Regions from separate parts of the Homo sapiens genome. Here all the other regions are linked to region 3. Evidence: fine-mapped expression QTL. A gene starts in region 3. Each other region holds a variant in brackets. All regions are shown on one strand. Distances are between the middles of the regions. Region 1 holds the start of CLEC4E (C-type lectin domain family 4 member E). Region 2 has its middle 8.9 kb from the start of LINC00937. Region 3 holds the start of CLEC4D (C-type lectin domain family 4 member D).

The links.
Region 1: its variant is fine-mapped to the expression of CLEC4D in monocytes (TOPMed, PIP above 0.99). The same link has a PIP of 0.9 or more in blood mononuclear cells and whole blood.
Region 2: its variant is fine-mapped to the expression of CLEC4D in whole blood (INTERVAL, PIP 0.98).

Annotation. Positions count from the first base shown.
Region 1 is chr12:8,537,663-8,545,846 of GRCh38, forward strand. CLEC4E (C-type lectin domain family 4 member E) reads right to left here and starts at 3,243. Exons shown (of 6, transcript NM_014358.4): 1 at 3,099-3,243; 2 at 2,193-2,285; 3 at 1,555-1,644. The coding sequence starts at 3,135. The variant T/C (reference allele first, on the strand shown) is at 3,160.
Region 2 is chr12:8,395,579-8,403,762 of GRCh38, forward strand. No RefSeq gene overlaps it. Among named protein-coding and RNA genes, the nearest start is that of LINC00937, 8.9 kb to the left of the region's middle. RefSeq lists enhancers at 933-1,192, 1,313-1,362, 1,655-2,156, 2,157-2,656. The variant T/C (reference allele first, on the strand shown) is at 3,364.
Region 3 is chr12:8,510,188-8,518,371 of GRCh38, forward strand. CLEC4D (C-type lectin domain family 4 member D) reads left to right here and starts at 3,316. Exons shown (of 6, transcript NM_080387.5): 1 at 3,316-3,573; 2 at 5,049-5,141; 3 at 7,977-8,087. The coding sequence starts at 3,546. It also overlaps the pseudogene SUPT4H1P2.

The sequences.
Region 1 (8,184 bases), 27 kb after region 3:
CTGTAGTATATAGATGGGTTAGATGTGGGCGGCAAGCCACCCAGGCGCTGAGGCAAGAGACAGAGGACACGAGCTGTTCCAGTATAATAAAATATAAAACAAGAATAGTTATACCAGATATAGATCTTAGATATGATTATATATGAATATCATTAATCATTAGTTTGTAGCAATTACTTTTTATTCCAATATTATAATAATCCTCGCTCTATAATCATAGCCAAGGAAAAACCAGGCCGTACAGAGCTACGAGCTGAGGGGACATAGTGAGGTGTGACCAGAAGACAAGAGTGCGAGCCTTCCGTTATGCCCGGACAGGGCCACCAGAGGGCTCCTTGGTCTAGCGGTGACGCCAGCGTCTGGGAAGACGCCCGTGGCCAGGCAGACAGACTGTGGTCTAGCGGTAGCGTTAAGTGTCAAGGGAAAACACCCGCTACTTAGCAGACAGGAAAAGGGAGTCTTCCTTTCCCTGGGGGAGTTTAGAGAAGACTCTGCTCCTCCACCTCTTGTGGAGGGCCTGACATTAGTCAGGCTTGCCCGCAGTTATCCGGAGGCCTAACCGTCTCCCTGTGATGCTGTGCTTCAGTGGTCACACTCCTAGTCTGCCTTCATGTTCCATCCTGTACACCTGGCTCTGCCTTCTAGATAGCAGTAGTAAATTAGCGAAAGTACTAATAGTCCCTGATATGCAGAAATAATAGCGTAAGCTGTCTTTCTCTCTGTCTCCTCTCCCTCTCTGCCTCGGCTGCCAGGCAGGGAAGGTCCCCCTGTCCAGTGGACACGTGACCCACATGACCTTACCTATCATTGGAGATGACTCACACTCTCTACCCTGCCCCTTTCACCTTGTATCCAATAAATAACAGCGCAGCCAGACATTCGGAGCCACTACCGGTCTCCGCGCATTGGTGGTAGTGGTCCCTTGGGCCCAGCTGCCTTTTCTTTTATCTCTTTGTCTTGTGTCTTTATTTCTACATGCTCTCGTCTCTGGACACAGGGAGAGACCCACCAACCCTGTGGGGCTGGTCCCTACAGTTAGATTTCTTAGAATTACAGAACTTTTGCCTTTGAGGTCTATTATAAATAATTCTTCTAACTTCTCTCAATTTAATGGTGAGAAAATTATAGCTCAGAGAAGGAAGTCACTTTTTTAGTGTCATGTAGCATTTTGCTAGGACTTGCAACAGGATGACATAGAAGAGCATAGAGAGTATATTTGTGAGATATTTATAAATTCTCTACTCCATACGTTTTTTCTCCATCTCATTTTGGAAGTAGGTGAATGAAAAAAAAGGTACACTCCTGGGAATAATACCTTCCACTTCCAGATTTACTGTTCAGACATACCCCTCAAATTTATTCTAAAAGTTTACTATAATGTCCCCAAGACTTTCTGCCCCAATGCTAATTGCATCACCAAATTTCTAGGATTTTACATTTTGCTTTTGAAAAATAAGACCTAATCCAGCTATATCTCACCTGTCCCAAAGTCAATCTAGAAGCCAGAAAATGTTGCTTTGTAAATTTTGATGTTCACCTTTGGGACTATTATACCTGATCCATAATTGTAGCAGGAGAGCTCTGTGAAATTCTCAGGTAGCTGAAACTTTTTCTCATCACAGGTTTGAAAGATGCGAAATGTCACTGTAAAAGAAAGGGCATAATGTTTGTTAGTCTTATTTCGGTTAAAAATGTCAGTTCCCTCAGTTTTGTATTTATAACAAAAGTGCCAATAATTATCATGTTTTTTCTTACAATCTGCTTTTTCTTACGACCCAGAGAAAATAGATATGTTTGCACTACCTCTTATGCCAAGTCCAACTCTCTCTACCCTTCCTTCCAAAAGTAATTAGTCATATCTCTGGTGCCGACCAGTAGTTCAAGCTCTAAGGCAGACTCTCCTAGAGAAGGTTACACTAATGATAGAGGCTGAAAGAGGAGGATTCAGGACTGCCAAGGAAGTGAAAAATGTCTATCATGAAAAGTAAGTCACAGGTGATTAAAATTCAGAAACAGTTCCCTGCTTGTTGAGGTTTCTGGTTTGAGAAATAACCTAGAGATTAATAGGGAAAAAAAAAAGGGTGAAATAGAAAGACCCTTTGAGGGCAAAGAGAGTCTACAGGCAGCATGGAAGAGTTTTCTCCTAATATGCACCAGGAAGAATTAAATTGAATTTGACCTTCAGAACCCACCAACACATCTGGTGATGAAACAGGCACTGAGAAATAGGATGGGGATCCCAGCAACAGTCCATAAGAACATTTGGGAAGAGAAGCATCCTCTCTCTGTAGAAAGAAAGACACAAACATGATCAATCTTCCCTAAGCAAGGTACAAAAGAGATAGAAGAGATTCTTATTCATCCTTACTTATTTCCTTCTACTTCCATTGTTTGTACTGAGTAATTCCCAAATTTCAGCATGCTTCAGAATCACTTGGAGGGTTTATGGAAACACAGATTGCTGACCCTTACCCCCAGAGTTAGCAACTCAGTAGAGTTTGTATGGAACCAACAAGTTCCCAGGGGCTACTGCTGCTGCTGGTCTGAGGACCACACGTTTAGCACCCCTGGAGTAAGACTCTGACTCATGAACTCAGATATACAATTTTTCCTTTCTAAGTCTCTCAGTTAAATTTTTTTCAGTATTTTCTAAGGCCCCCCTTCTTTCTTTTTCTTTCTTTTCCCTTTTCTCGTCTTTGCTTTTCTTGTCCTTCTCCTGATCTTTTTTTTTTTTCTGTGTCTCACTTTTCAAGCGCTTTGTAAATTAGGTAAAATGTTAACAGTCATCTAATAGTTCCTCTCTTCCTCCCATTAAACATTTTACAGACAAAGAGAGTTCCAGAGAAGTGAAGTGACTTGCCAAAAGGGACACAATGTATTGCAGAAAGGGTGGAAACTGATAGCTCTCCCTTAGCTAGAGGCCAGCAGGCTTTCTGGTATAAGAAATAGTCTTTAAATCTCTCTCTCTCTCTTCCTCTGTCCCCCCACTTTTTTTTTTAACTTCAGTGAATACTTTTCTATTGTCCTGTCTTTCACCATATTTATCACTTGTTCCAAAAAGAGATCTATGGAAGGAAAGGAAGAGTTGCAGATTTTACCTGTGCATTGTGTTTCAGATGATTTAGATGAATTCATTTTTTCTCTCTCTTTGGTTTTTTG[T/C]TTCTCTCTCTCTCTTTTTCTCTCCCTCCCTCTCTTTCTTTCTCCTCAGGAGTGTTTTGTTGGTAAGATTCAGGGAGAATGAATCTTGAAAGATAAACACTTTGTCTTTTAGGAAGTTCAGCTCCGATAGATGTAGAATATTAACTTGTTCTGTGGCTACGCATTAAGTCAGGATTTCCTTTCTTGCATAAGGAGGACAAGGAAGTTTATTGGACAGCATGTCAGTTCTCTTCACTCCATGTAACAACAAAATGAGGAAATTATGAAATGGTAAGCATCAACACAAATAGGCTAGCCATGGGGAAACAGGAGAGTTTTTTTTTTAAATGTTGTTTCGTTTCGTTGGACCAAATGTCTCTAGTTTCTTCAAGGCATAACTCATCCCCCAGTTTTTCCTTGACAATATGGAGCTCACCTCTGCACTCTGAATTTCACTTTGGATCTGTACCATCCACACATTTGGTAACTGAAAAGAAGACTTAGACAACATAGCACAAAGCTGGGCATATAGTGTATGTATTTAGGACATGGCAACCTGAATTTTTTCATCTTTTTTTTTTTTTTTTTTTTTGAGACAGAGTCTCGCTCTGTCGTCCAGGCTGGAGTGCAGTGGCATGATCTCCGCTCACTGCAAGCTCCGCCTCCCGGGTTCAAGCCATTCTCCTGCCTCAGCCTCCCGAGTAGCTGGGACTACAGGCGCTCGCCACCACGCCTGGCTAATTTTTTGTATTTTTAGCAGAGACGGGGTTTCACTGTGGTCGTCAGGATGGTTTCAATTTCCTGACCTCGTGATCCGCCCGCCTCAGCCTCCCAAAGTCCTGAGATTACAGGCGTGAGCCACCGCGCCCGTCCTCTTTTTCATCTTTTATGGTTTTTCTTTCTTCTTCATTTGCAGCTCTTGAATATTCTAATGTTGTGGATTTATGTCCCTCTTATCTTATGCTGACTACTAGGCTGCTACTACTAGGCTGACTACTAGAGTCCCCCTCAGCAGGACAGCCTCATGTGATTAGACCACTTTGAAACTCAGCTTAGTTTTTCACAACATAACGCAGCTTCTGAAGTCTCAGAGACCCAGCAGGCAGTTTAATTCTCCTGTTCTCAATTATTTGGGGATTTTAGTTCTATGTTACAGCCTACAGTAGGAGAAATGTATTTGAAGGTCAGAAAAAGCAATTTCAATTAGATATTAGAATTTAATGGTTCTCTGGGCCGGGAGCAGTGGCTCATGCCTGTAATTCCAACACTTTGGGAGGCCAAGGTGGGTGGATCATTTGAGGTCAGGAGTTTGAGACCAGCCTGGCCAACATGGTGAAACCCCACCTCTACTAAAAATACAAAAATTAGCCAAGTGTGGTGGCACGCATCTGTAATTCCAGATACTTGAGAGGCTGAGACAGGAGAATAGCTTGATCCTGGGAGGCAGAGGTTGCAGTGAGCCAAAATTGCACCACTGCACTCCAGCCTGGGCGATAGAGTGAGACTCTGTCTCAAAAAAAAAAAAAAAAAAGAATTAATGCTTCTCTGGAAGAATAGTTAGATATGTGCCTTCTCCTTACTTAAAGATACTTAAGAATAAGATCACACTGGTCTCAGTTTATTTAAGTTCACGAGTCAGGAGGCATAAGTATGATGTACATGACTTGGTAAATCCCCACATCCAGTGACTCACGAATTTTCCATGTGTGAGAAAATATTCTTGTTCTCAAAGGGACTTTTTATTATTTCAAGGTACTGGTCAATTTTCTCTGCATTCTCTGTTTTATAGTAATACAATTTTAAAAATATCTTTAAATTATATATGTGTATATTATAGAATATACCCATATTTAATATGTGTATTCTCAGCAAATAGCTTTTGATCAGTAAAAAAAGAGAAACTATCTAGTGGATGAGCTATATGAATTATAAAATGATGAACATAATTACCACAGTCCATCTTTTATTAATTACAATCAACCAGCAACCATCAATATTACTAAACAATTGTATGTTAATTTTTATCAATATACAATTAAACAGAAATCAATAAATTAATATTTTTTCCAGCCAAAATGTTTTTATATCTTTTGTTTCATTGATTTTCCCCAAATTATACGAGTAATATGTTTTATGATTAATACTATGAAAAGCATGTGACAAGTAAAAGCCTTCTTAACTATCCTTAGTGCATTCTTCTAAAGTTGACCATGCTTAATGATTTCTTTTTTGGGGGGGGGGATTAATTTTTATTTATTTTTATTTATCTTTTATTACACTTTAAGCTTTAGGGTACGTGTGCACAACGTGCAGGTTTGTTACATATGCATACATGTGCCATGCTGGTGTGCTGCACCCATTAACTCGTCATTTAGCATTAGGTATATCTCCTAATGCTATCCCTCCCCCCTCCCCCCACCCCACAACAGTCCCCAGAGTGTGATGTTCCCCTTCCTGGGTCCAAGTGTTCTCATTGTTCAATTCCCACCTATGAGTGAGAACATGCGGTGTTTGGTTTTTTGTTCTTGCGATAGTTTGCTGAGAATGATGGTTTCCAGCTTCATCCATGTGCCTACAAAGGACATGAACTCATCATTTTTTATGGCTGCATAGTATTCCATGGTGTATATGTGCCACATTTTCTTAATCCAGTCTATCATTGATGGACATTTGGGTTGGTTCCAAGTCTTTGCTATTGTGAATAGTGCCACAATAAACATACGTGTGCATGTGTCTTTATAGCAGCATGATTTATAATCCTTTGGGTATATACCCAGTAATGGGGTGGCTGGGTCAAATTGTATTTCTAGTTCTAGATCCCTGAGGAATCTCCACACTGACTTCCACAATGGTTGAACTAGTTTACGTCCCACCAACAGTGTAAAAGCATTCCTATTTCTCCACATCCTCTCCAGCACCTGTTGTTCAGCAATAGATTCTTTGATTTCCCTTTTTAAATATCATCCAGGAACTTATCGTCTAAGTCCCTTTTCTAAACTATATTGCCTGTCAATATTTCAGGCAACTGAAAAAGAATCAGTAAAAGCTGTAAACATCTATGCCATACGAGTATTGTTAGTATCTACTTTTCTTTGATGCCAAGAGAAACATCACTCAATTTTAGCCTTGGGGCAGATTTATTTTTTGTCTTTTCATCTAACATGCAATCACTAACTGATCCCAGGGCTGCTGCTTCCCAGGTTGACGGCCAGCCCTTTACCCTTGAACTGCCATCTATCTGTAAGCCACACTGCTGCCTTGACAGCTGACCAGAGAGAGGGGCCTATTCAGCTATAGGTTTAGCCAACTCCTCAGGGGAACCAAATTTATGGTGACCTGTCAGCCACCTGACTGTGCATGCATTGGGTAACCCCATTTCACATTCTTGAGTATCTCCTTTCTATTCAAGGAGGGAATTCTGTGCATTTCATTTCTTGTTGGAATGATGATATGATATAAATAGGATGTTATGAGTTTTCAAATAATTTTATGTCCTTCAGTACAAAAAGCAGTTTCAACTAAAACCCAGTAACAAGCTAGCAATTCCTTTTAAATGGTGCTACTTCAAGCTGCAGCCAGGTAGCTTTTTATTACAAAAATCCCACAGGCAGCCACTAGGTGGCAGTAACAGGCTTTTGCCAGCGGCTCCAGTCAGCATGGCTTGACTGTGTGCTGCAGAAACTTCTTAAATCGTCTGTGTTTGGGACTCGTGGGGCCCCACAGGGCTTTACAAGGGCTTTTTAATTTCCAAAAACATAAAACAAAAAAAAATACAAATGTATTATCTTGCTCAAAACTTCAGTCAAATTTAGCTTTTTTCTTGATAACTTTATTAACAGGGGTATGCCATTTCTCCACCACATTAACAAGCCAACATCTTTGCACCTCTTGCTTTCATTTTGGAGCTGGCAGAGACAATTACTTATTTTTGGTTGTCTGAGGGATGCCTCTCATCTCCCCTGTCCAGGTGATGCCTAAGAATTTTACCATTTCCCCTGGACCCTGTTCTTTAGTTGGGTTAATCAGCCTCATATGATTAACAAGCATTATACAGTAATTCAATCTTTGCTAGATCTTCAAATTGAGTTAATATGACATTAATGCAGTTAATAATATTACTTTCTAATTGATCACATCTAAGTATCTTCTTGCCAAGTGCCGTGATAAAAAGGAGAATTTAAATAACCTTATGGGAACATAGCAAATGTATACTGGAATCCATCCCACATGAATGTGTATTAGCTTTGATTTTCTCCCTAAATAGAGATAGAAAATAAGGTTTTAGGCAAATAGATAACAGAATATTACTGTCTTTTAGCTTTTAGCAAAGCTTGAATTGTGATGCCATCTTGGGTACAGCTGATGCTGTTGGAAGCATGATTTTATTCAGTCCTCTCTAACATACAATTCATCTCCAGGATCCACCAAGTTTTCTTCTAGGCCATACTGGATTATTAAACAGGGAATCTGTGGGCATTAACATGACTGTGTCTAACTTATTCTTAATTAAAGCTGAAATTCTTCCTCCAGCCTATTCTTAATTAAAACTGAACCCCCCATCCTATATTGTTTTAAAATAATCATTTGAATGTGCTTAAGCAATTCTAAGGGTTCCCATCTAGCAGGTCCAATTAAAAACAGGATGAAGAGAAGATTGGCAGTCTTTTCCAATGGTTTGGGTAAGGAAAGAGTCCGCCATTCAGACATCATGCTCATTTTTAAAATATATTCTAGTTGGACTGAGACAAAATCATACATTAATTTCATTCATAAATACCGTACTAATATGAGGGACTTGAGAATCCACAGGTTTTGGTATTCAAAGCAGGGTCCTCAAACCAATCCCCCACTGATACCAAGGGATGATTGTATCTACTTCTGGCCATACTATCACCTGCAAGTTTTCTGTATTTAATTATATTTCCCTTTCACTTTTCATTGGCAGGTTTAGGTGTGACAGTAGATTAAGTACCAATGTCCAGCAATCCAATAATGTTTCTTCATCATCCCTTACCATTTTACTCATACTGATGCGTATGGCCTTAT
Region 2 (8,184 bases), 110 kb before region 3:
GATGCACCCCAGAACAAAACATCACTGCAAAAACACACCAAGGCATGAGTTTTAGTCCTAAGTCCCATTTATCCACCATACACTATGTGCCAGGCACAACGCTAAGTGCTTCTATGGACGAGCATCCCTTAATCTCAGCAGTAACAACCCCAGGCAATGGGGCCCGTTGACAGATCCATTTGCCACTGAAGACAGTAAGGCTCAGAGAGGGTAAGTGGCTTGTGCCATGTCAGCCAGCTAAGGAGGGGCAGAACCAGGATGCAAACCCCAGCCGCCTGGCTCCAGACTCGCGTTCCCAAGATCCCACTACACTTGGTCACTCCACTGCATTCTGGTATCCTGGTCTTTGGCAGAGTCCACGTAAAAGAAGGAGGTAGAGGGAGTGAGAAGGACTTCACGCAATAAAGTTTCCTGGTGTTACACTGCCACTGTAATTGTGTCCCCGACCAGGACCTCTCCCTTCTCATCCTTTCCGTGATCGGCCCTGCAAAACCTTCCAAAGAACTGTCCTCCTTCTCCCGGGATCTCAGAGAAAATTCGCCTGAGTTCAGTGTCCAGGTGACCCAAGCTCCGAATGCGGTAACGTGCACGGGGAGATGAGGATGTCACCATGACCAAGCCTCCCAGACAGCATCCGGGAGCAACCCCAAGACTGGGCAGGGGGGGCTCTGATGCAGCCCACGGCGAGGAGGGCTGCCCGTGCTGCCTAAATGGGTTCAGAATGAAGGCCGCCCTCCCAACTTCAACCCGGGGCAGGCCACGGAGCCTCTCGCCGCCCCTACCCCTCGTTCCCCGCATCCCCGCGCACCCGGCACCCCCGGACCCCCGCGCCCGCGTCACTTACTCCTCTGCCGTCGCCACCTGTCTGGGTGCCGGTCTCCACCCTGCCCGGCCGCGGCGCGTCCTCCCCGTCCTCGCCGTCCTGGGGCTGTGCGCTTCCCCCCTCCAGCAAGAGCCGCAGCCTCTTCTCTTCGGGAGGGACGTCGTCCTCCTCCCTCCTGGGCCGGCCATCCCTGCCTCGGGGCTTGCCAGTGGCTTCGGAGCTGCGGGAAGGGCTGGCCATGGCTCCGGGGGCTCTGCCTACACTTGCGGAAGAAGAAGGAGCCTGCGCAAGCGGCCTCTCGGCGGAGCTGGGGCGTCTGAGCGCGGGCTCGGTGGGTCCGCGCGGCGCGGAGCTGGGCATCGGGGCGGCGCGGGCTCCTCCGCGGGCCGCTCGTGGTCCTCTGGCGCCCTCTGCTGGCCGCTCACGCGCACCGCCACCACGCCGGGCCCGGGCCTGCGCCGCTCTCACCCGTCCTGGCCCAGGAGGTCGCTGTCCCTTGCCCGTGGCCAGGCCCGCTCTGGCCAGGCCCTGCACCTCCTCGCCACCCCAGCCAGGTTGCACCCCGATGGTCTCCCTGCTCAAGGAGGAGGAAGAGAAGGGACGCCCCGAGAGGGTGGACATTGGCCACAGCCACCTTGTCTTTGCTCTTACCCTGTGTCTTCCATGATTTGGAGGTGGTGGGAAAACCGAGGCTGCTCAAAACTCGTGGAGAATTCCGCCTGCAGGATGACATGAATGCACCTTCGCATTGCCTACCAACAGATCTTTTCTGAGCATCACTGTGGACCAGGCGTGGTGATGGGGGAGGGGATATTGTGGTGAACATGACAGGCATTGCCTTCACCCAGTGGGGCTCAGCACTGGGTGAGAAGGCATTGAGAATGGACATTGTCAATTGGGCCAAAGGAGGCCAAGGAGAAGTGCTGGGTGCATGGGAACTAAAAAAGACAGGAGGCTCAGCAGGTCTTGGAGCTGGGAGAGGGACAGCAGCAGCGGCTGTTCCAAAGGAAGCAACAGCTGAGAGAGGTCTCAGAGAGTTGTTCTCAGCCCAGTGGAGGGTGTTCAGGCAGAGGGAACAGCGTGTGCAAAAGCCCAGAGGCTGGGAAAGAAGCAGAAAGAGGACGGTGGGGCTGGAGCGTGGTGGGCAAGGTGAGAGAGGTGTGGTGGGTGGACAGATGGCCTTGGACCCAGCCGTGCAGGGGCAGAGGAGATAGGGGATCCTTGCAGGCCCCCAGCCGGGGCTGAGGCACAGAGACAATGCAGGTGGGCAAAGGGAGGAGACGTGGAGAAATATTTTGGAGGCATGCCCTGATGAAGGAGCCCAGGATGCACCCTTAGTGTCAGTGTGGAGCTCCTTCCTTGGCTGTGTGATGAGCTGAACTCGGGGGTATTTTCTGGACATGGAGGTGCTACACCCAGAGTCCAGGACAGGCTAAGTGAGCACCAGCAGCTCCTGGCCCACCTCAAAAGCAGGAGAGACAGGGGAGACTGGGGAGGCCGGGGTGGAAGGGGAAGCCAGGAAGGCAGGAGAGGCCACAGAAGCAGAGGAGGCCAGGGAGGCAGAGGAGGCAGGAGAGGCTGGGGAGGCTGTGTCCTTCCCCAGATTCTGCCCAGGATCCTAGGCCCCTGAGCTTCTCCACCCCAAGAGCTGGAACCATGTTGCACAATGGTCTCCCCAACTAAGCTCCTGATGGCAGCCCCTACCCTGCTGTGCTCTCTATTTCAACCCTAACAGCTCTCACAGTGGGCAGCACACAGTAGGTGCTCAGGAAACACTGGTGGCAGAGCACATGGGTCTGCTCAGCACCTTCCTCCCTCCTCCAGCTCTCCCTATCATGAAATAATTCTGATAACGACACATGGACTTTGAGATGCTCTTCTATTACTTTCCATATGCTAATCCATCTATACCCCACAGCAGCCCTGAGGGTGGGTGCTATTAGGATGCCCATTTTATAGAGGAGGAAACTGAGGTATAAAGAGGGTAAGTGACATAGGCACACTACAGAGGCTGGGACCAAGTGATCAGAGCACTCAGTCCCCAAAGGCAAGGTGGATGCAGTTATCATTAAAAGACAGCAGAGTCAAAGCTGCAACCAGAATAGCCTGACTCGCAGAGACCTATGGTGCCAGCTGATCGTGGCATTCCTAGAAGTGAAATAGATAAGAAGCCTGCCACATTTTTACTGGATCTGTGTTTGCAGAAGAGTTCTAGGTCAGGTGAGCAGAAGTCTAATCTGAATCCTAAAAACAGAGTCACAGTCCCCAGTCAATTCCCAGATATAAGCCAGTTCACAGACCCAGAGTCCCTTGTCTGAATGGGAAGCCAGGTCCCCTCCAGAAAGGACTCTGCTCCACTGCCACAAATTAATACTGTCAATCTTTCTCCCAGCCTGCCCCCAAGGGAATACACAGCCTTTTACCAGGATGACTGAATAGGAGAAAAGGAACTAATGAGACCAGTGCAGGATCACTGGACACAGGCTCTGAACTGGCACTAGGGCGAGACTAGGATCTACCAGACAGAATAGGCATTTTGG[T/C]GGTCAGGTGAATGTTGGTGCAAGTTCATGTCATGGTAGATCCATTGGGTCCCCAAATCCATCCTCTGGTTATATACAAAATGGCCATGTTGAGATTTAAATTCATGGTATCCAACTTAGAGGCTGTGCTCTTACTCATGAAACATTCTGACACTAGTAACCAATTTAAAAATGCAAACACCTCCTGGGGCTAGCGAGAGTCCTCCAAACAGTCATGTAAATTGGTTCTGTCAAGGATTTCCTCCTACCCACCACCCCTCCCCACCCCCATCCGCTGAGAGCCAGTTGCAAGGAGAGACTAGGGAAGGGCATTGGGTAACTTTGTTGCTAAAAGCTCTTCTGGATAAAGAAGAGCTTTATCCAGGAAAAAGAAGCAAAATAGAGTTCAGCAGAAGTTGAGAAAAGAAGCAAATAGAGTTCAGGAGAAGGGGTAAGAAAGTAAGTTTATGTTTGACCAGGCACGGTGGCTCACGCCTGTAATCATAGCACTTTGGGAAGCCAAGGCGGGCAGATCACGAGGTCAAGAGATCGCACCATCCTGGCCAACATGGTGAAGCCCCGTCTGTACTAAAAATTCAAAAATTAGCTGGCCATGATGGCACACGCCTGTAGTCCTAGCTTCTCGGGAGCCTGAGTCAGGAGAATCACTTGAACGCAGGAGGCAGAGGTTGCAGTGGGCCGAGATCATGCCACTGCATTCCAACCCGGTGACAGAACAAGACTCCATCTCATAAAACAAAACAAAACAAACAAAAAAAAGTAAGCTTATTTTTAAGCCTGAACAAGTGTAGTGGTTTAGGGGTTCTGCAAACATGGCCCCAATCAGGCTACAAGATGTTGTGGCAGCAATATTTACAGCCAGTCACTCCTGGCCAGCTGAGCCACTTTTCAAAACATGCTTGCACAGCTGTGCAGAGCGGCTGGCTCCACTGGCAGCCGGCAGAGCCATAACTCACACTGTCACCAATGCCCTCAAACCCCTTCGGTAAGCACTTTGTTTTTTTGAGACGGAGTCTTGCTCTGTCATCCAGGCTGGAGTGCAGTGGCACAATCTCGGCTCACTGCAAGCCCCGCCTCCTGGGTTCACGCCATTCTCCTTCCTCAGCCTCCCAAGTAGCTGGGACTACGGGCGCCCGCCACCATGCCCGGCTAATTTTTTTTGTATTTTTAGTAGAGACGGGGTTTCACCGTGTTAGCCAGGATGGTCTCAATCTCCTGACCTTGTGATCCGCCTGCCTCGGCCTCCCAAAGTGCTGGGATTAGAGGCGTGAGTCACCGCGCCCGGCCTGGTAAGCACTTTTAATCAATGCAACAGGAATAAACATTTGCTGCAGAGCGGCAATGTGCAGGGAGGAACATGCTTCCACTCAGGCTCAGAAAGCAAAACCTCCTGGCTGTTTGCATCTATGCAAGAGCTCGCAGGAAAAGCCCTCTGTGTGGCTGCCAGCCTCACACACTCCCCCCAAGGGGTGAGTTTCTCTTTTCATGTTAATCTATGCTCTGACGTGCCATCTGTCAACCACCACACCATTCTCAGTTGCCATTTCAAAGCATCTTTGCCCTGTGAATGGTCACCAGCCCTGCCTTGCAAGCCCCCAGTTCACATTGAACTTAAATGAGAGAGAAAGCAGGTTTCGGGGTGGATTTCAGTTCAGCATCTTCGAGTCTCTGTGTGGACATGAAATCTGTCTCTCCAGCTGTGGGCTGCATCTTTGTTTGTCATCTGGTTTGGTTCTTGGGGACTTGGAAACTCGTGGGCACCTTTGCAATTTGTCAAGAAGCTGCATGGCCCTTCCAACAAAAGCAAGGAGTAGGAACAGAAGCCCAAGGCTTCAGATCAAGGTGCAATTTAAAGCAGCCTCAGTGTAAAAGCAAACAAGATTCAGAGGGATGCCTAAGGCAGAGTCTAGTCCCCAGGGCAGCAATAAGGCAAAGAGAAAGAGAGAGAGAGAGACAGAGACAGAAAGACAGAGAGAGATGGGAGGAGACATGAGGCACCCAGGCGTCTGCATCAAAATCCCTACAAGAGGGGCCTCCTCAAAATGCAGGAGGCTGAGGTGGGTGCACACAGAAGTTCAAGACTAGCCTGGGCAACATAGCAAGACCGTGTCTTTACAAAAAATACAAAAATTAGCCGGGTGTGGTGGTGTATGTCTGTGGTCCCAGTTACCCAGGAGGCTGAGGTGGGAGGATGGCTTGAGCCCAGGAGGTAGAGCTGCAGCGAGCTGAGATAGCACCACTGCACTCCAGCCTGGGCAACAGAGTGAGACTTCATCTCAAAAAAAAGTTAAAAAAAATTTTAAAAAGGATCACCCTGGCTACTTGAATAGGTAATAAGAAGGTAAGAGCAGAAGCAAGGAGACCAGCAGGGAGATTCTGCAGGTGGGAGTCCACAGTGGCTCAGACCAGGCTGGCGCTGAAGACTGCCTGAATTCTATATATATATTGATGATGAAGCAACTCACGGACTCTTGAAGAGTGGGCTCTAGGAGACTGGATTTTTAACAAGCTCTCAGAGGATTCTAATGCAGGCTGAAGTTGAAGAACTGGTTTAGGTGAAGCTTCTGTTTCATCCTTGGGGAAGTACCTACTGACTTTTCTCTAAGTCACCTAAAAAGAGGTGCTAGACAAGATGTGCTCCAATGTCTGAACATGTGTGCACAGCTCTAGAGCCAACCTCAGGACACTGAGTCAAAGGTTAGGAGTACAATAGTGAACAACCACTGTCCTCTTTTCAATGAGCTTTGCATTTAGTGAGAGAAATAAAAAGCAAAAAAAAAATCATTTTCAACACAGAATGGTAAAAGTTATGGTGACAGTATGTCTGGGGCAATGGGAGCACATAGAAGAGGCACCCGATTGGCTAGGTGCAGCTGTTCATGCCTGTAATCCCAGCACTTTGGGAGGCCAAGGTGGGTGGATGACTTGAGGCCAGGAGTTCAAAAACAGCCTGGCCAACATGGTGAAATCCTGTCTTTACTAAAAATACAAAAAAATTAGCCAGATGTGGTGGCGGGCACCTGTATTTCCAGATACTCAGAAGGCTGAGGTGAGAGAATTGCTTGAACCTGGGAGGCGGAGATTGCAGTGAGCCAAGATCGTGCCCCTGCACTCCAGCCTGCACGGTCAGAGCGAGACTCCATCAAAAAAATAAATAAATAAATAAATAAAAGCCCGGAGGTGGGTGGGCATGCAATCTCTATCAGGTGGTGAGAAATCCTTCTCCACCACAGGACTCCTCAGTTGAAGACTAGAAAATGGTAGGAATTAGCCAGGTCGATAGGAGAGGTGTGGAAGATCATTCCCAGCAGGGGGAAGAGCATGTGCAAAAATCGAGACGTGAGAGGGTGAGGAGCTGAGAGATGTTCATATAATTATAAAAAGTGACTAATATAGAGGTAAGTTGGAGCCAAATCTTAAAGGCTCTTTGTCGTGTTTATCCTGTACACAAAGGGAGACAGTAGATGTTTTTAGGCAGGGGAGTAATGATCCACTTTGTGCTATAAAAAGAGCAGTCTGGCTGGAGGAGAGTGGGAGGTGAGTAGACCAGGTAGTAGGCTGCAATAAGCCAAGTGAGACAAGTTGGTTGGCTGGACCAAGGCTGTGGCAGTGAGGATGGAGAAGAGACAGTAGACTAACTTGACGAGAAAGAGGGAGGAACGAAGGAGGAGGCCCAGGTGTTTTGGAAGCTGGGTGGATGGTGGTGTGAATCTGACGTGCTGAGCCCAGGCAGAAGAGGAAATCAGGAGAGGCAAGGTAAGATGAGGTCAATGCAAGAAAGACAGTCAAATAGAGATAACAACTGGGCCATTGGATTCATCAGCCTGGAGTTATACAGAGAGCTCTGGAATGGAAATAAAGAGGAAAGGACTTTGGGAATAGGTGAATCCTCCCAGAATAATGTATAGAGAAAGGAGAATAGAACACAGGGGACAGAAAAAGGGAAGAGATTTGTTATTAAAACCAACCATCCATCAGACATCTTCCAATACAACACTTGTTAGAGGTTTCCTCAGTGTGAGTTATTCAGGACCAGAGCTAAAGACCATATTCCCAATAACATCACTGCTGGGAAGGTCTTCATGAAAACATTTAATGCTGCTTTTAAAACAACAACAACAACAAAAAGGCTTTAGCTACCGCACAGACCCTGGAGCAATTTTTCGGCAAGAGTCTATCAAACACGAATCTGATCTGACTCAAGGAGGTGTCATATCAAGTGTAAAAATCCAATTCCAATGTCCATAACAGCCTTTCTTCCAGGTACAAGACCCTAATCCAGTTGAAGTGATTTTCTATTGATTAATAGGCTGGGAATACACAGGTTGTTGGTTTTTGAGATTTCCCTCCCTGTGCCTTCATGCTAGCTGTGAAAGAGTCAAAAGGCTCCTAACTGTCAAAATAAAATTGACACTTGGTCACAGAGGAAACAGATTATAGGTCAATCACATTGATGACTTTTTAACTATGAGAAGCCATTAATGTTACTGAATAAGCAAATCTGTTTGCATAACCAGATTTTTATAGGCTACTGGGAATAAAGGTTTTCCTAAGTAGGTGATTTGTACAACGATAGCCTTTGGGTCTCTGATGGAACAGCTCTGATGAGGAAATGTTCCTTTAATTATGTGGAAGGCCAATTACCACGTTATAGCCACATTGTTTTGCAGATTACATATAATTTCACCATTTCCATAGCTTCAGCACTATAATTCTGGAGAAAATTCAGGCACCAAGGGGACATTGAGGCACACTATGCTGGAGACAAAGATGTTTTAGCGAATTCAATTTAAGCTTCAACATTAAAGTTATTTTGTTGAA
Region 3 (8,184 bases):
CAGGATTTATGTATTCTCTAGGAGTCCCAGGTCCTTTTGATAGAAATAAATATTACTTTAACCAAAAATCTAGTTTCCAGGGTTGCATATCCGAGTTTGTGGGTTAGTGCTATTGTTGCTATTGGAATACTTCTTGTAGTGACTGGCGGTGCCGGAAAATATATGGATTGCCAAATCTATAATTTTACCTCCTCCCATCCCCAATTTAACATAGTAAAGTAATATTTCACTGAAGATCACAGAATATATATACACACATATCATTAAAGTAATATTGTAGCTTAGGGAAGAGTTCAGGGAAAGGGCTATATTCTGGAAATTGTAGAGATCTTTCTTAAAGGATCTCTAAGCTGTTATGTACTTGTCTTAGTGAGCTTGGGCCACTATAACAGAATACCATAGACCGGTGGTATGAAAGAGAGACATTTATTTCTCACCGTTCTAATAGCTGGAAGTCTCAGATCAGAGTGCCAGCATGGCAGAAGTGTGGGTCCCTAGGGACTGTCACTCATCATTTCCCCATTGTGGGGAGCCTCCCTTGGCTCCATGGCAATCCTGGATGGGCAGCTGCTCTGTGTCGCTCTTCTTTGCTCTCTGTAGGTTATGTGGCTTCTGTGATGAATCCCAAAGTGTCCTCCTTCAGGTCATGTAAATTTGTTCTTGGAGTCCTGTCAAATTAACCACTTTACCAGTGAGGGCTTTCTACTAGCCTTGCAGATGACTGCCTTCTGGAGAACTCATCTCTCTTTTTTTTTCCTCTCTCTCTCTTTTTTTAAATTTTTTTTTAAATTTTTTTATTATACTTTAAGTTCTAGGGTACATGTGCACAACGTGCAGGTTTGTTACATATGTATACATGTGACATGTTGGTGTGCTGCACCCATTAACTCCTCATTCTCCCAGTGCTATCTCTCCTCCCTCCCCCCACCCCACAACAGGCCCCGGTGTGTGATGTTCCCCTTCCTGTGTCCAAGTGTTCTCACTGTTCAATTCCCACCTATGAGTGAGAACATGTGGTGTTTGGTTTTCTGTCCTTGTGATAGTTTGCTGAGAATGATGGTTTCCAGCTTCATCCATGTCCCTACAAAGGACATGAACTCATCATTTTTTATGGCTGCATAATTTTCACATAGCTTCGTTTCTACAATCACAACATTCCTGAGGTAAACAGGCAAGGTGTAATCATTCTTTTTTTACAGAGGGAGAACAAGGAACTTAGGGAAATCAAAATGGGGACACTAACAGGATTTCTGTGGAAATTTAAGTAAATGAGAATTTGTAGTAAATTTTTTATCCTAAAACAAATAACTCACTTTGGCCGAAAAATGGGATGTTACCCAAGGTCCCCTACTGGGCCGGCGGAGAAAAGGACCTGCCTCCTACAGGGGCACAAACAAGGCAGACTAGGACCCAGCAGTCGGCCAAGGCCCAAGGGTCTCCAGTAAGGAAAATGTAAAATGTGAGTGTGTGAGACTGGCCTAAGATATAGGAAGAGCAGTAAAGAGAAGAAAACTGACGAGCAGAGGGGGAAAAGAATTATTAAACATGGTCAAGGAGCAAGGAGCACGACAAAGCCTCAGGATTTCTTCAAGGGATACTGCTGTGCCAGGTCTCAAGGGCAGAAGGATACAAGCACAAGACACCAGGGCCACCAAGCTGATGGGGTTACTGAGCCTCTGGACAGCACCTTCTGATAGGAAGCAAGGAAGCACACTACAAAGGCTGCAATCCTGGAGGCTGAGACAGTCAAGAGGGAGTGGAAGGGCCTCTGCTGCTCTGGGAAGGTATCTTATAGGGCAAATAAGCTCTTACTGTGTGCCTAAGAGAAAGGAAGAGGGAAGCGAGGCAGGTGTCATGGCCTTAAGAACTTTCTAGAGGTTTCTATTTATTGACATTTGACCTAGACCTCTTCATGAGCAAGGCGCAGCCTTGGGCTACAGGTAGGAAAGTCAGCATCCTACTCTCTCCTCAATTCCATCTGTTAATCCACCAACCCAAATCCCTCCCACCCCCACCTGAAGTCCAAATAAGGTAAAATGATAAAATGATGTGCTGTTCTCTCAACAGTTGGCTGAGTCTGAATTGGAGGGTAGGAAGCATTTGAAGCTCTGCCCATTTAGTTCCAGAACAAAAAATAAGCAGAGGCAGGAGGTGGAGAGCAAAGACGCTGGCAGCCCTGCGTCTGGTCTTTATAGCTGTGTCTTTGGATTTGTAGGCCACTCCTCAACTTTTCAGCTCCCGCACGATTCCTTAGGGCAAGCGACCAGTGGTTGACACCGCATATACACCTGGCTTAAAGTTATTGACTCGCTGCCAGTTGGAGACCCAGCTGTCCTCTGGACTCATCATCGCAATGATTCCATCAAAGGAGGAGCTGGTGCAGCCATATAGCATCTCTCAGTTACCCTTCATCTGTAGATATGCATCTCAATAGTCACAACCATCATATTCAAACTGGTCTATAGTACCTTGACCAGTGAACACAGCAAACAGGCCCACAGATGCCACAGGTCCTTCAGCACCGTCTCCAGGGCCATCTTCTCCAATGAGAAGAGCAACAGCAAGGAAGATGGCCACAGCCTGAGCACCCGCAGGAAGTAAACAGCTCGTTAGCCGGGTCTCTTCTTATAATTCCATCATGAGGACCCCATTCTCATGACCTCATATTAAACCTAATTACCTCCCAAACTTTTGACCTCCAAATGCCATTACGTTGGAGGGTAGTGCTTCCACCAATGAATTTTGAGGAGATACAGACATTCACTCCCTAACAGTGCTATAAATGAAGTCAGGGACCCTGATGGTGTCTTTATCACAGAATCTTACATTTTCTTTGTCTTTGCCTTAACACAACTCTTTTTGCTCACCTAGAAAGTTCTTGGGATTTAATTAACTGCTCTATCATCTCTTCCTCAACTCGAAAACAAAGGTTGCTGTGTCTTCACATGCCATGTACACACAAGGTATACTTTAAAAGTTTTTGTTCATTGTTCACATTGTCTTTTGCTCTCTTAGACTCAACTTTTTATTCAGTCCAGAGAACTTTTTAGTATAGAACTCACCCCAAGAATATAACTGCCTTTGAAAATATAATATTCACAAAAAGAATTTAAAAAGAGGGGACATTTACTAAATTTTTATTGGGCATAACAATTATTTCTTTTAGGGCGTTGCTAAATTTTTTGTCTAAATGAAAAAAAAAACAAATTGAGAAATTCCACATTTCACACTGATCTAGTGATCTCAACATACTTGTGGGTTTCTACTAACTGTTGTTTGGTATTGCTTTCTCAATTTCCTTTTTTTTTTTTTTTCGCCTCATCTCCCGGAATGTATCAAAGGAAACCCCTGTCTTTGAAAAAGACTTCTTTTGAGCTAACTTTCTTATACTGGTACCTTTCTAATCTCACTACAATATGTAACATTGGTGTTCGATCTCAAGTATTTCTGAATATATTCCCCTATCCACAGAAATATACTCTGGGGGAAAAAAAATAGAACAAATTCTTGCCGTCCTGACCATTGAACAAGAGACTAATTAGACAATGGGGCTAGAAAAACCTCAAAGTAAACGTGAGTACTTTCTCTCCTTTCCATTTCAAAGAAGCAGATGGAATTATACTAATTTAAAACATATGAATTGATGGTAGTTTTAAAGATTGTTGATGATGACGGGGAGAAGGAGGTGGAAGGAAATAAAAATGACGTTGGTGAAGAGGAAGGACATAGAGTCAAATAAGTTGGATAACAGAAACTTCTTTATAAAATGTATATTGGACCAAGAGGGGAGATAAAATATATAAAAGAGAAATAAGATGAAAAGAAAGAGAGTAATATGAGAAGATTCTTTTAAAGAAAAAAGAGAAAAGGAAGATGTAGAAAAAGCATTTAGGCTTATGCTGTATCAGAGGCTCTAACTGTCCCATTTTATGTTTGACTTAAGTGACACCAGTGGATTTGTATTGTGATAATATTAAATAATATTTTTGATAGATATATAGAACAAGTGTGGAAATGTTTAAATTAAAATTAAAGTTTTACTTTATCTCATCACCCTACCATGGCAAACTGTAATCACAGTGTGATCCTATTGAATTACCTTTTTAGGTAACAATATTTCTTAGAGATTTTTTGCATCAATATATACTGATTACATGCTTATTTAATTACTATACAGAATATCATTGTGTGAAGGGACCATAATTTAGAATTTCCACTATTGATAATATACATGTAAATATTAGATTACAGTATGTGTTTTCTATTTTGAGAAGTACTGCAATGAATATCTTTTAACATAAACAAGCTCAATTATTTCTATAGAATAGACACCTGTAATTGAAATTATTGTGGCAAATGAAATGCATTTAAAAATGGATAAATGCCACTAAATTGATCCTTCTAAAAGGCATTCCTAATTTTCCAGTCCAGGCAGCAGCATTTATTTTCTCACTAAGAGTGCTTATTTCCCCTCAGCCTTGCCAACACTGCATGTACTTAATTTACTTAAAAAATCTGATGTGTGAAAAGTTATACCACAATCTTTTCGTTTACAGTTCCCTGATTGGGCATATTTTTGTTTGATTAGTGGCTATTTATAACTTCAGCAAATTAAAATTTCAGCAAATTTCCTGCTCAGAGTTTTGCTCAGTTTTCTAGTTGATTTTGAAATACTTTATCCAGTGCGGATATTAATATTATGAGAAGACTTTCCTTTCATACGTTCCTTGACTCTAACATTGCTTGTGTTATATAGAAGTTTTAATTTTTATGTACTCAAATTATCTATTCTAATGGCTCTTGGGTTTTGTATCTTACTTATAAAATTCTTTTCATTTCAAAATTACCAAGAAATTTTACATTTTTCTTTCTTATTTATTTATTCATCAATAAGCTCTAAAATTGATTTATTTGGAGAAAATATTTATGCTCTTCTCTAGATCTGAAATATTTGGTTTGCTGTCACTTTTAGATTGCTCCTTGGTAGAATTAGCTTTCCTAGCTTGTAGCTGAGAGGAGGTTAATCTCTATTTTTCTTTTGGTCCTAGTGGAAGGAGGCATGCATCCCCAGCTGATACCTTCGGTTATTGCTGTAGTTTTCATCTTACTTCTCAGTGTCTGTTTTATTGCAAGTTGTTTGGGTAAGTTATTAGCCAAAGTAGAACTCTTCTTGAATTATTATTTCCAAACAACTTTTCTGAAGTTGCTCTAAGCCTTTTGGTATCTTGATTTTTCCTAGCATAACCTATCTATAATATCTTCAGGGTCTTGCACTGAATATTCAGAGCTACATTCTTGACCTTCTGTCTTTCAATGGTGGTACCTTGTGATAGAGATTGATTGATGGAATTTAGACCATTTTCTGTACATGTAAAAGTTGGTTACTATAGCAAATTTCCCCCCATTTTGGACTGGGATCACAAAGGGATACATCTTATGAGAAAAGAGTAAGCAGAAGAAAAATAACTTTCAGATAGACTGGCTTTGAAAAGAACAAGGTTGGAAGAATTGTTCTCTCTCTCTCTTTCCCTCTCTTTCTTTCTTTTTTCCTTTCTTTCAACCTCTTTATTGATGTACGATTGACATATGAAAACCTGTACATATTTAATGTATACATCTCAATTTGGGGGATTAGTATACACCCTTGAAACCATCACCACCATTAAAAAAATTCTTTCTGATATCAAACATAAAATAATTATAATTAAAGTAATATGATATAGGTGCAAGACAAATAGACTAGAGGAAAATAAAGGAGAGCTTGGTTACAGATCCTGCATGTATATAAGACTCTTTATATAAAACAAAAGAAGATATCTCAGACATATGGGAAAAGGACAATTTTGTTCAATTAATGTTGCAGAGCCCATTGATTATTTATATTTAAAAGATGAAATTGGTCTCCTGCATCACACTGTATACAAAAACAAATCTAGAGCAGATTATTGTCCAAAATGTGAAAAGTAAATCAATAAAGTTTTAAGAAGATAAATGGAGAATATCCTCATGACCTGGAGGTAGAGAACGATTTCTTAAACAAGCCACAAAATGCACTAGAAAATAAACATTGACAAATTATACTACATTAAAATGAGTTACTGTACAACAAAACATACCAGTAACAGTGAAAATAAAAAGCCATAGGAGAAGATACTTGTAATGCATATAATTAATAAATAATTCACATGTAGATTATATACAAATTTTTTCAAACCAGTAGGAAAAATACTTACAATAAAAAAACTGGGCAAAGTCTTAAATAGGTACTAAAACAAAGAGAAAAATGAAATGTCTAATAAACACACAAAAGTGCCAGCCTCATTAATTAATTATCAGGGAAATGCAAATGCAACTCACAGTGAGACACCTTTGCAAACATAACAGGATGGCAACAATAAAAAGTCTGGCACTACTAAATATTGATGATGCCATGGAGCAAATGGACCTCTAGTGAATTGCTTCTGGTGGAGTTTAAGCATTACAGTCACTCTGGAAAAGTTTACCGCTATCATAGTTTACAATATTCGTACGCTATTGCCTGCAGTTCCACTCCTACGTATGTGCCCTACAGAAACGCATGCTTATGTGCTCCAAATGCATGGTTGAAAATGCTCAGAAGAGCATAGTTCACAGTAGCCAAACACTGGAAACAAGGCACACATCTAATAGGAGTAGAATAGATAAATATATTTTGTTTCAGGAAGACAATAGTTCACTTTACAGCAATGACAATGGATGAATTATAGCGGGCACGTAACAAAATAGACAAATTTCAGAAACAATTCTCAACAAAAGACAGAATCAGAATACATACTGTGTGATTGCCGTTCAAAAACAGGCAAATCTGATCTATAGGGACATGTTAGTAAGTGACAAAATTGTGAAGCAAAGCACAGCGGTTACTTTAAAAGCCAAGAGTGGTTACCTGTAAAGGAGAGTGGTTACCTATAAAGGCGAGGGAGTGAGCTGCCTTTGAGATGTGAAGGCTATCTGGGGTTTTGGCAATATTCTGTTTCTTGAGCTGAGTAGTTGTTACCTGGAGTGTTCACCTTACAATAATTTGCTAAACTGTTTTCCACTTTTTTACATTTGTTTATTTTTTATTATTTATTTATATTTATTTTATTATACTTTAAGTTTTAGGGTACATGTGCACAACGTGCAGGTTAGTTACATATGCATACATGTGCCATGTTGGTGTGCTGCACCCAGTAACTCATCAGTTAACATTAGGCATATCTCCAAATGCTATCCCTCCCCCCTCCCCCCACCCCACAACAGGCCCCGGTGTGTGCTGTCCAGGAAGGGTACATTTGTTTATATATTTCAAGGTGAAAGTATTTTAGAAATGCATAAGGTTCATACAACCCAGCGCGCACCAAAAACCCCTATTCTAACACAAATTTTGATAGAAAAACATGCTTGCAAGCATGTGCACATAAAAGTTTGCAAAACTTCTCCCGTAAAGAACAAAACGGGCCGGACGCGGTGGCTCACGCCTGTAATCCCAGCACTTTGGGAGGCCGAGGCAGGCGGATCTCGAGGTCAGGAGATCAAGACCATCCTGGCTAACAAGGTGAAACCCCGTCTCTACTAAAAACAGAAAAAATTAGCCGGACGTGGTGGCGGGCGCCTGTAGTCCCAGCTACTCGGGAGGCTGAGGCAGGAGAATGATGTGAACCCGGGAGGCGGAGCTTGCAGTGAGCCGAAATCGCGCCACTGCACTCCAGCCTGGGTGACAGAGCGAGACTCCGTCTCAGAAAAAAAAAGGACAATATGATAATAAAAATATTAATTTTCAACAATTGCTTTCAACCAATTCACCTGGAGCTGAAACAAACAAGCTGCATAGAAAGAAAAGAGAATATGAGGGCCTTAATTATTAGGATAAGAGAAAATTTAGGAAGGTCAGCCCCTATTTCCCTAATTAGTGGTTATATAGAAAAAGAAACCTAACTTGCTTTTATCCTTGACAGTGACTCATCACAACTTTTCACGCTGTAAGAGAGGCACAGGAGTGCACAAGTTAGAGCACCATGCAAAGCTCAAATGCATCAAAGAGAAATCAGAACTGAAAAGTGCTGAAGGTACAGAGTGTAAGATAATTTCTTTTTTAATTTCCATTTTCGTTCAAATTCATAGTCTGACTGAAGGAATGTCAGTAGTGAACCAGGAAAGATTAAA